Linked DNA regions of Homo sapiens: region 2 is linked to region 1. Evidence: fine-mapped expression QTL. A gene starts in region 1. The other region holds a variant in brackets. All regions are shown on one strand. Distances are from middle to middle. Region 1 holds the start of SCN8A (sodium voltage-gated channel alpha subunit 8). Region 2 overlaps SCN8A (sodium voltage-gated channel alpha subunit 8).

Evidence for each region. PIP is the estimated chance that this variant, and not a neighbour inherited with it, causes the effect. A credible set is the group of variants that fine-mapping cannot tell apart.
Region 2: its variant is the best candidate, but not a certain one, in a credible set for the expression of SCN8A in blood mononuclear cells (TOPMed, PIP 0.61).

What each region holds. Positions count from the first base shown.
Region 1 is chr12:51,588,348-51,593,725 of GRCh38, forward strand. It overlaps SCN8A (sodium voltage-gated channel alpha subunit 8), which reads left to right and starts at 2,886. Exons shown (of 27, transcript NM_001330260.2): 1 at 2,886-3,012. RefSeq lists a silencer at 2,389-2,638.
Region 2 is chr12:51,622,363-51,627,740 of GRCh38, forward strand. All of the region lies in intron 1 of SCN8A (sodium voltage-gated channel alpha subunit 8), which reads left to right. Among named protein-coding and RNA genes, the nearest start is that of SCN8A, 34 kb to the left of the region's middle. The variant A/G (reference allele first, on the strand shown) is at 2,070.

The sequences.
Region 1 (5,378 bases):
CTGAAAGTACCTGATTTCAAGATTTATTATAAAGGCAGAGTAATCCAGACAGTGTGGTATTAGTGCCAAGACAGAAAAATATATCAATGAAACAGAAGGAGAGTTTAGAACTAGATTCTTACATACTTGAGTAAACGATTTTTTGCAAAGGTGCAAGGGTAGTCAGTGGAGACAGGATAGTGTTTTCAACAAATAGTATGGGGACAACTATATATCTATGCAACAAAACAACAAAAGAACTTCAAACTACATTTCATACCACATACAAAAATCAATTCAAAATGGATTATAAACCTAAATGTAAACTCTAGAACTATAAAATTTCCAGAAGGAAACATAGGATAAAATATTTGGGGCCTTGTGTTGGGCAAAAACTTATTAGACATGACATTAAAAGCATGATTCATAGAAGAAAAAATAATAAACTGAACTTCATAAAAATTAAGAAGGTCTAATTTTTTTTTTTTTAAGAGACAGGTTCTGGCTATGTTGGCCAGGCTTGAGTGCAGCAGCTATTCACAGGCCCAATTATAACACATTATAGCCTCCAACTTCTGGCCTCAGGAGATCCTCTTGCCCGAGCCTCCCGAGTAGCTGGGACTACAAGTGTGCACCAGGACAACTGGCTGAAGAACCTCTGCTTTTGGAAAAACACTGTTAAGAGAGTAAAAAGAATAAAAAGATAAGCCTAAACTGGGAAACAATATTTGCCAATCACATGTCTGACAGAAGATTTGTATCCACAATATATAAACAACTCTTTAATTTTTTTAAAAAAATTTTAGAATCAGAGTCTCCTGTGTTGTCCATGCTGGACTTGAAATCCTAGGTTTAAGCAATTATTCCTGCTCAGTGTCCAGAGTAGCTGGGACACCAGGCATGCGTCACTGAGCCCAGCCAGGATATATAAACAACTCGTAAAACTCAATTAACAAGAAAAAACCCCACCAATTTTTAAATAGGCTAAAGACTTGAAGAGACACTTCGCCAGGAGGATTTACAGATGACAAGTCCATGAAAAGATGTTCAACATCTTTAGTCACTAGTGAAATGGACGACAGACCCACAGCGAGATAAAACTACACATCTATTCAAATGGCTAAAATTAAAAAGACTGATCACTCCAAATGTTGGTGAGGATGTAGAACAACTGAAATTCATGTGCTGCTAGTAGGAATGGAAAGGCACAACCACTTTGGAAGGCAGTTTGGCCCTTTCTTAATATGTTAAATATACACCTAAGACAGGACTCAGTTATTCCATTCCTAGATATTTATACCCACGAGAAACGAAAGCATATATATCCATACAAAGACCTGCACACGAAAGCTCATAACAGCTTTGTTCGTAACGGACAAACATTGGAAATAACCTAAATGTCATCAACAGGTGACTGGATAAACACATTGTGGTGTATCCCCATAAAGAATACTACTAAGCAGTAAAAAAGAACTCTTGATAGGCAACGACTGAATAATCTCAAAACGATTATGCCGAGTGGAAGAAGCCATACAAAAAAGAGAGTTTGTACTGTATGATTCCATTTATTTAAAATTCCGGAAAATGCAAACCAATGTACAGTAATAGAAAGAAGATCAGTGGTTGCCTGGAGAGGGTGTGTGGGGGCGAGCGATGCAGGGAGTGATTACAAAGAAGCACACGGAGAAATTTTTGGAGGTGATGGGTGTGTTCATTACCTTGGTGGTGATGGTTTCATGAGTGCACACATAACTCAAAATTGTACAATCTAAACACACGCAAATATACCCCAGTAAAGCTAATTTTAAATGTATTGTAGAGGGCACATTATGTGATAAGCATACCATGTGCCTGGCTGTGTTAGCAATGTGTGAAGTGCATGCTCCCCGTTAGTACAAACAAGAAGTTTATAAGGTTGCTACTGTGACTGTTTCCTTTTACAGACGAGAACACTGAGGTTTGGAGAGGTTGTTACACCCTTTTTCCCTCTTGTGATTGGTGGTAGGAAAATATTAAGTAGAGGAGAGACACAGTAAAGTGCCAAGAGCTCTGGCACTCATTACCTAGATCCTCGCGAGGGTGGAGTGAGCGGTCGAAATGCTCATGCCTACTTTACAGATGGACAGACTGAGGATCGGAAAGACTGAGGTGGCCTGGGGGCTGTCAGGGAGGCAGCGCCTCCCCGCTCCTGGCAGCAGGTCCCTGTGGGCTGAAACACGAGCCTCCACCTGCCGCTGATTGACTTCTCGTTTTTTCAGTGGGCCCAAGATCCTGTAAATTGAGTTCCCTGCGCTTTTGGATGTCAGAAACTTCACTGAGCGCGGCACTGTTGGGGGGCAGGAGAAAGGTAAGACTTGGCACTGACGCGGGCCACAGAGCACGCGGGTCACCACGACAGCTTTCGGGTCTCGCCGCCCGGCGCTGGCGAGCAGCCAGCCAGCGTCTCGCGGCGGGTCCCGGTCCTCAGCCCGCGGCCCCTCCCGGCGGCTCGGCGGGGGCGTAGTGGAGGCGGGCCCGGGGACGCTCGCTGGCGCTCCCGCGCGGCGCCCCCTGCCGGCGCCCTGTTCCCTCTTGCCCCTGATCCGCTCCCGGCGGCGCGGAGACGCGAGTCTGAGAGCCTGCGGGCGGGCGGCGCGCTGCAGGCGAGCGGGCGAGCGGGCGCGCCCTGCAGGGGTAGGTGGGCCGCGGGGGCGCGGGCGGGCGGGCGCGAAGCGCAGGGAGGGGGCGGGGGCGGTGGCAGCGGCGCTTGCGGGCCGGGGCCGGCCCGGGCAGGGGGCGCGCGCGGAGGGGTAGGCGCGGGGGCGGGGCGGGCGGGGGGCCCGGCAGTAGGGGCGCGCGCGCGGTGGCGCGCGGCGGGCGCGAGTCATCAATTATGCAAGGACTCGGGCGGTGCGGGGGGCGGGCGCGGGGAGCGCTCCAAGATGGCGCCCACCGCAGTCCCGCCCGCCGCATCCTCGGCGCCTTTGCAGTCCGGCCGCGCCTCCCGGGCCCCGCGTTAGGGCCGCCGCTGCCTCCCTCGCCGCCGCCGCTGCCGTAAGTCGCCCCAGAGCCCCCGCCCTAGCGCTGCTTCCTGCCCTCCGGGTTTCCCTTCTCGCCTCGGGACCCTTGAGCGGGGCTCGCCCATCTCCAGTCAGGGGCTTTGCCGCAGAGTGCGCGGCGGGGCTCCAGGGGCCGTGGAGCTGGGGCTCTGCTCTCCTTGTTTTGGACAGGTGTTTGGAACTCTTGCTTCCTTCTACTGTGTGTACCGGGGGTCTCTTAAGAGAACTGAGGACCACCAGTCCCCACCCCGGACACCCTGCTTTCTCCGTCTCGGCTACAGTGAGGGACACGGCCCGTCCTTGGTGCCCCTTCCGCGGTGCAGCCCTCCATCCCTCCCTCAGTGCCGGGCAGAGTTGGGGCCCCTAGCCGGCTTGCACTGGGAAGGGCAGCGCTGTCGGGATCTTCCTACAGCAGCCCCTCAGCCCTCCCCCTCCCCCATGTCTTACTGCATCCTTCTCCCTCAGCCGGCTTCACACTGCTAAAAACTGCAGAAGCCAAGGGCTCCTGGGTTCTTCCCGCAGCCAGCACTCCCGACTCCCTCTGTCCTTTACTCGGATGCGTTCGTCCCCCTCCCAACAGGGTGCTCTGGAGTTGTGATGGGGGCTCCCGGGACCTTCCTCGGCAGGCGAGGATTCCTGCATTTGGAAGCACATCACTTTGAGAATATCCCCTTCCCCCATCCCACCCCCACCCCCACCCCCCACCCCCACGCCACCCGATGCAGAGCTTGTTCCTCTCCTCTCCCTCCCCCACCTTACCATCAGCAGCAGCACCCTTGGCTTCTTGTTAGCGTTGGGGTACAGGACTGTTTGCCCAGCTCCGTGGGCTTGGACCCTCCTCTCTAGTTCTCACTTGGTACCTTGGGGCACCGCAAAGCCTCTGCAGTTTCTCCTGAGAGCTCAGCTCCATCCCCTCCATTGCCAGCAACAACCACCGGTGGAGACTTGGCTAACTTTCCAGGGGTTAGCCAGGACTGTCAGACCCTTTCAGGGGCCCCAGCTTCGAGTTGGGATGGAATGGGAACCATTTTTCAGCCCGATAAATAGGATTCTTCAAACCATGCATTCCATCCGACTACTCCACCCTATGCCCTCTTCCTCACTTACACTGCAGTTTTTGAAGCATGAGGGAATACATTTTATGTCCGGAGATTCCAAGGTTCTGCATCAGCGTTCATAATAAATGGATGTCATCTGTTTGGGGGGAGGGTAGAAGAAACTTTGGATTGCATCTGGCTAAAGTCAGGGGGAGGGAGAAATAATTAGCATGGAGCAAGCTCTGCCACACAAGGAAAACTGCTTTTTATGCACAGTGGGCACCAGAGAGTCAGGGATGGAAGCAGGAAGTGTGGGTGGGGGCCATGGGGGTAAAGGGGGAGAGTGCTTTTTATAACTGTTTTCCCAAGTTTGAACCTGGAGAGCCTTTAGAGAGAGGTAGCAGTGTGTTAGGGCTGGGGGATGTTTTAGCTTTCCAATGGAGATTTCGGGTGTGGTAGGTTTTTCACTGTCTCAAAATCCCTCTGCACTTCTCTTTTCTCCACGTGCATTAGAAGATGTGGAGGGGGGGATGTTGTGCTTTTATTCTTTTCTCAAAAAAAATTTTTTTTTTGATTTGTGATGCAAATGGCTGGATAACATTACCACACGGTACCATCCTGGTAGGAATCTTGGGGGAATCAGACTTAAAATGCTGAAAGCTTTATAGCACATTACATGTAACCTGGTTCTTGAAATACTGCAGCATTTTTCTTTGGAGCTCATGACCCATAAGGCCTTCATTTCTCCCTGAAAGAGGATTTGGTTGCTGGTTGGTGAGGTGGTGGTTGTGGGTAGTGATCCTTTGGTGTTCAGCACGCATTCCCTGTCCTAGAAATTGAGGTCCTCCCTGGAGAGGGCTGCAAGCATGTTCCGTGTTCTCTGAACATCTGATTCAGGGTATATGTAAATGTGTTGTGTTTCTGAGTAGAGCTGGTGGTGGGTATTGCAAAGCAGTTCATAATGGTGCAGATCAGTTATTGGTTTCTTGGCTTCAGTTTGAGCAGCTTTGGTTTTCATTTGGGGTTTTGTCAACTTTTATCAAAATCTTTGGAGGATTTTGTTTTAAATTAATAAAGGATAATCAAGTGGAATACTGCATCCTTAAAAACAACCATACGGTTGCTGTTGCTTTCCTTGTAGGACCCTTAAGAATTTTTTCTCCTGGTCCAGCTTTGGGTTGCCTGTGTTTAGGCTTGTATTCAGGTTTCTTGCTGTGGTGCTGAAAGGACAGTTCCCCGACCAGTTCTGCGGCGAAGTGCACACACACTGGACATGATTGAGTTTTTTTTTGCTTTTTATTATCAGCAGGCTTTCTCGTGGATG
Region 2 (5,378 bases), 34 kb after region 1:
TTTTTCTGTTCCAGGATTCAGTCAAGAGTATTACATTGCATTGTCATTATGTCTCCTTAGTCTCTTCTGGTGTGTGACAGTTTCTCAGACTTCCCTTGTTTTTTAATAACCTTGGTAGGTTTGAGGATACTGATGAGGTATTTTGTAGAACACCCCTCAATTTAGGTTTGTATGATGTTTTTCTCATGATTAGACTGGGGTTATGGATTTTTGGGAAGACTACTACAGAGGTGAAGTGCCTTCCTCATATCATATTGGAAGAATATACTAACATGACTTATTACAGATAATGTTAATTTTGATCATTTGGTTGTGTTAGTGTTTGCTAGGTTTCTCACTATAAAGTTACTATTTTTTTTCTCTTTCTATACTGCATTCTTTGGCAATGGGTCACCAAGTCCAGCCCACGCTTGGGGGAGGAGGAGTGAGGATTAAGCTTTACCTCCTACAGAGGGTATTATCTACTTATATTATCTGGAATTCTTCTGCAAAGGAAGATTTTCCCCTTCTACCTATTTGTTTATTTATTGAGTTGTTAATTTGTATCTCTATGGACTTGTATTTATTTTATACCTTGGGTTATAATACAATACCATGCTATTTATTTTCTTCCTGAAATTGTTCTAGCTTTGGCTTCTGGGGCCTCTTCCAGGTTAACTTCTGTGTCACTTTGACATGTCCTCATCCTTTTGCTACTTGAGCACCTCCCTACTTTTTTAGAATTAGAAGATGTTCCAGGTTCATCTTGTATTTTCCTTGCCCCGGCTCTAGAATCAGCTTTTTCTAAAGAGCCCTAGTTCTTTTTATTGGAGAAACCAAGTTCTGAGCATTGGGTTGCATGCTGCTAGTAGGCCCTCTCAGTGAATAGAGTTAGGAAATAAAAGTATGTATGCTAACCCATGTATATATACATATTTCTAATTATTTCTGTATCTATCAGTCTGTATATATGCTAAGCTAAACGTGGATTTGCACTGGTATCTTTGACTCCAACTCAGTACTGCAGAGTTCATTCTAGCCTTTCCCCCTTGCAGATCTGCATTTCACTCTCTGGCAATGAGAAACCTGCCTCTCATCATCCACCGTGGTAGATGGGGAGTTTACTTATTTGTTCAAACCCTTACACATGTAAAGCAGGTTCAGATTTGTTAACTTATACTCCTATGAGCTACGATTTACCAATTAGAGTTCCATGTTTATGTACAGATTATTTTGTCATTAGCCTATAGTTGTCAGTCAAAACACTATTTTCTTTTTTTTTATTATTATACTTTAAGTTTTAGGGTACATGTGCACAACGTGCAGGTTAGTTACATATGTAAACATGTGCCATGTTGGTGTGCTGCACCCATTAACTCGTCATTTAACATTAGGTATATCTTCTAATGCTATCCCTTCCTCCTCCCCCCACCCCACAACAGGCCCCGGTGTGTGATGTTCCCCTTCCTGTGTCCATGTGTTCTCATTGTTCAATTCCCACCTATGAGTGAGAACATGCGGTGTTTGGTTTTTTGTCCTTGTGATAGTTTGCTGAGAATGATGGTTTCCAGCTTCATCCATGTCCCTACAAAGGACATGAACTCATCGTTTATGGCTGCATAGTATTCCATGGTGTATATGTGCCACATTTTCTTAATCCAGTCTATCATTGTTGGACATTTGGGTTGGTTCCAAGTCTTTGCTATTGTGAATAGTGCCACAATAAACATATGTGTGCATGTGTCTTTATAGCAGCATGATTTATAGTCCTTTGGGTATATACCCAGTAATGGGATTGCTGGGTCTAATGGTATTTCTAGTTCAAGATCCCTGAGGAATCGCCACACTGACTTCCACAAGGGTTGAACTAGTTTACAGTCCCACCAACAGTGTAAAAGTGTTCCTATTTCTCCACATCCTCTCTAGCACCTGTTGTTTCCTGACTTTTTAATGATCGCCATTCTAACTGGTGTGAGATGGTATCTCACTGTGGTTTTGATTTGCATTTTTCTGATGGCCAGTGATGATGAGCATTTTTTCATGTGTTTTTTGGCTGCATAAATGTCTTCTTTTGAGAAGTGTCTGTTCAT[A/G]TCCTTCGCCCACTTTTTGATGGGGTTGTTTGTTTTTTTCTTGTAAATTTGTTTGAGTTCATTGTAGATTCTGGATATTAGCCCTTTGTCAGATGAGTAGATTGCAAAAATTTTCTCCCATTCTGTAGGTTGCCTGTTCACTCTGATGGTAGTTTCTTTTGCTGTGCAGAAGCTCTTTAGTTTAATTAGATCCCATTTGTCAATTTTGGCTTTTGTTGCCGTTGCTTTTGGTGTTTTAGACATGAAGTCCTTGCCCATGCCTATGTCCTGAATGGTATTGCCTAGGTTTTGTTTTAGGGTTTTTATGGTTTTAGGTCTAACGTTTAAGTCTTTAATCCATCTTGAATTAATTTTTGTATAAGGTGTAAGGAAGGGATCCAGTTTCAGCTTTCTACATATGGCTAGCCAGTTTTTCCAGCACCGTTTATTAAATAGGGAATCCTTTCCCCATTTCTTGTTCAAAACACTATTTTCTAAGGTTATATAGGCCAGCTTTTTTTTTTCCTCTACCCCCTTCAGTGAGTTTATGTCATACATTTATAATATGTTAGGTTCATTTGTCACAGTCTACATCCTATCCTGGGATTCCCTGACATACTGGTTCTCTTGAAAAAACGTACATACCTTAAAGTTCACTCTTTGTAAGGTACAGTTCTACGGATTTTAACAAATGCATAGAGTAACGTATGTTCCACCCTAGTAACACATAGAATAATTCCGTTATCCTAAAAGTTTCCCTGTGCATCTCCCTGTAGTCAAACACCTTCCACTGCAAACCCTGATAACTAGTAATCTGTTTTTCATCCCTGTAGTTTTGCCTTTTCCAAAATGTCACGTGAGTGGAATCATATAATTTGTAGTCTTTCACCTAGCAAAATGTATTTAAGATTCACTCATATTGTTGCAAGAATCAATGGCTTGTTGCTTTTTGTTGTTGACTAATCGTCCATTCTATGGTATACCACAGTTTCTTTATTCAGTCACCTGTCAAAAGACGTTGTTGCTTCCAGTTTTGGATGCTTATACACAAAGCTGCTATAAATATTTGTGTACAGGTTTTTATGTGAACCTGGTTTTCAGTTAACTTGGATCAATAACTAGGTTGTGATTGCTGGGTCATATTTTAAGTTTATATTTAACTTTATAGGAAGTTGTCAAACTGTGCGGTATTAGAGTTTAATCACCCCTCCCCCTCTTTTGTTTTTTTGGACAGAGGGAATAATTAAACAATCGCTAAGATTCAGGCCAAAAATGTCAACTAATTATCTACTTGTCTGTGTAAAATTCAGCTTATCAAGTAACTGCTGTATACATAGCATTGAATTTGTTGAGTGGTAGAAGTTTTTAAAGGAGTTTGCTATCTAATACGGAAGGTGAGAGTTTGTAAGCAGTGATGTAAGCCACCATTTAGGATTAAGTTGGGTTGGGTTCTAGTTCTTTGTGTCTGGTGGCAATAGTAGTGGTAGTATCCAGTTGATTTGTGGCCATTGATGTAATTTATAAAGGTGACTCAGTGACTACACAGAGTGGTCAATGTCATTGAAAGGAAAGTTTATTACTTACATTTCCCAAGACAAGAGGGCATTCTGCACCACACAGGGCCGCAGAGGGAAGCACCAGTTTCAGTCAGGAGGCAGAAGGAGCGAGGGGAAAGCATGGTCCAGAGCTCTTACTATGTTTTCCTTGGGAAAGGCAAGGCAGGGCAGGAGAAACAGGTTAGAATTGGCCAATTTGAATAATTCCAGTGGGCTTTAGGGCTGTCCTTAGTTGTCTGGTACCTGGTCCTGGGTTGATTTAGGGCAGGTGAAATGTTGGCTTGATGTGTGAGAGTTAGATAAAGGAGGTGGTTCAGAGAATGGACTTTGGCTCTCGGGAGGTTTAAACAACTTTGGCCATTAGTTTGGCCTTGTGATCTATGGATGCCAGATAGACAAATACAGAATCAGCAAAAACACAGAATACCCAACACGACCTTCCTGCATAGAGCTCTCCGTACCTACCAGTTGAATTATTTAATTCAATGCATTATTGACTGCCAACTTTGAAATGGGTACAGAAATTTATAGATGAAGACTTTGTCCTCAAGGAGCTCGTGATATATCATGAAAAACCATTCATTCATTAATTAAGCAAACATTTATTGAATATCTACCATGCACCAGGAACTTGCTAGTCTTTGAAGATTACAGGGCTTTAATCAAACAGATGGAAAATTTATAACAAAATAGAGTATGTTTCTCTTCCTTATAAACATTAGTATTTAGGACAAAAATACATTCTCTCATTTTGCTGTGTTTTCTTTCTCTTACCTCTCCCACCTCCACTCTCCAATTGTTTTCTGGATTTTTAAAAAGATTTATTTATTTATATTAAATTATTAATTGATATTTAATTATATATTCTATTATATGTAAATTAGTATTTATTTATTTATTTAGATTTTTTTAGCTTGGATTATGGATTTGAGTTTTCACATTCATGAACATGTAAGCAAAAGCATGTGATTGACAGATTTTCTTTTAAGGATCTGGGGCAGATATTTAAAAAAACTCAAAAGTTTTCATTTAGTTGTCTTTTTACTATTGCCTCTAACAGGCAGTAATGGGGGAAGTAGCATAGTTATATGTATGTGTGGCTGAAGGAGTGGGAAGATGAGGTGCTGTGGGGGAATATTAGCTTGTGAGGAGAGTTAGAGACTAGGGACTAGGAGTAGGAGACTTATTCTAGTGTTGGTTTTGTTGTTAACATATACACTTTGGGTAGATGTCTTCCTCTTTCTAAAGCCTCAGTTTCCTTGTTTAGAGAACAGGGTTCATGATTACAACTTGTTCTATCTTATATTATTGTTAAACATGAAATGAGATAATAAATATCAGCCTTAAAGTGCAATACAATTGTAAAGTATGTTATAAGGCCTTAACCATAAAAGCCTCAGAAAATATTGAGGGAATGAATGAGTGTATCTCTTTGAGACGCAGTCTTGCTCTGTTGCCAGGGAGGAGTACAGTGGCACGATCTCGGCTCACTGCAATCTCTGCCTCCCAGGTTCAAGGGATTCTCCTGCCTCAGCCTCCCAAGTAGCTGGGATTACAGGCATGCACCACCACACCTAGCTAGTTTTTGTATTTTTCGTAGAGACAGGATTTCACCGTGTTGGCCAGGGTGGTCTCGATCTCCTGACCTCGTGATTCCCCCAGCCTCGGCTTCCCAAATTGCTGGGATTACAGGCATGAGCCATTGTGCCCAGCCCTCTTTTTTCTTCTGTTTCTGACATTTACTACAAGAAATAAGCACTGAGAGCCCTTGATC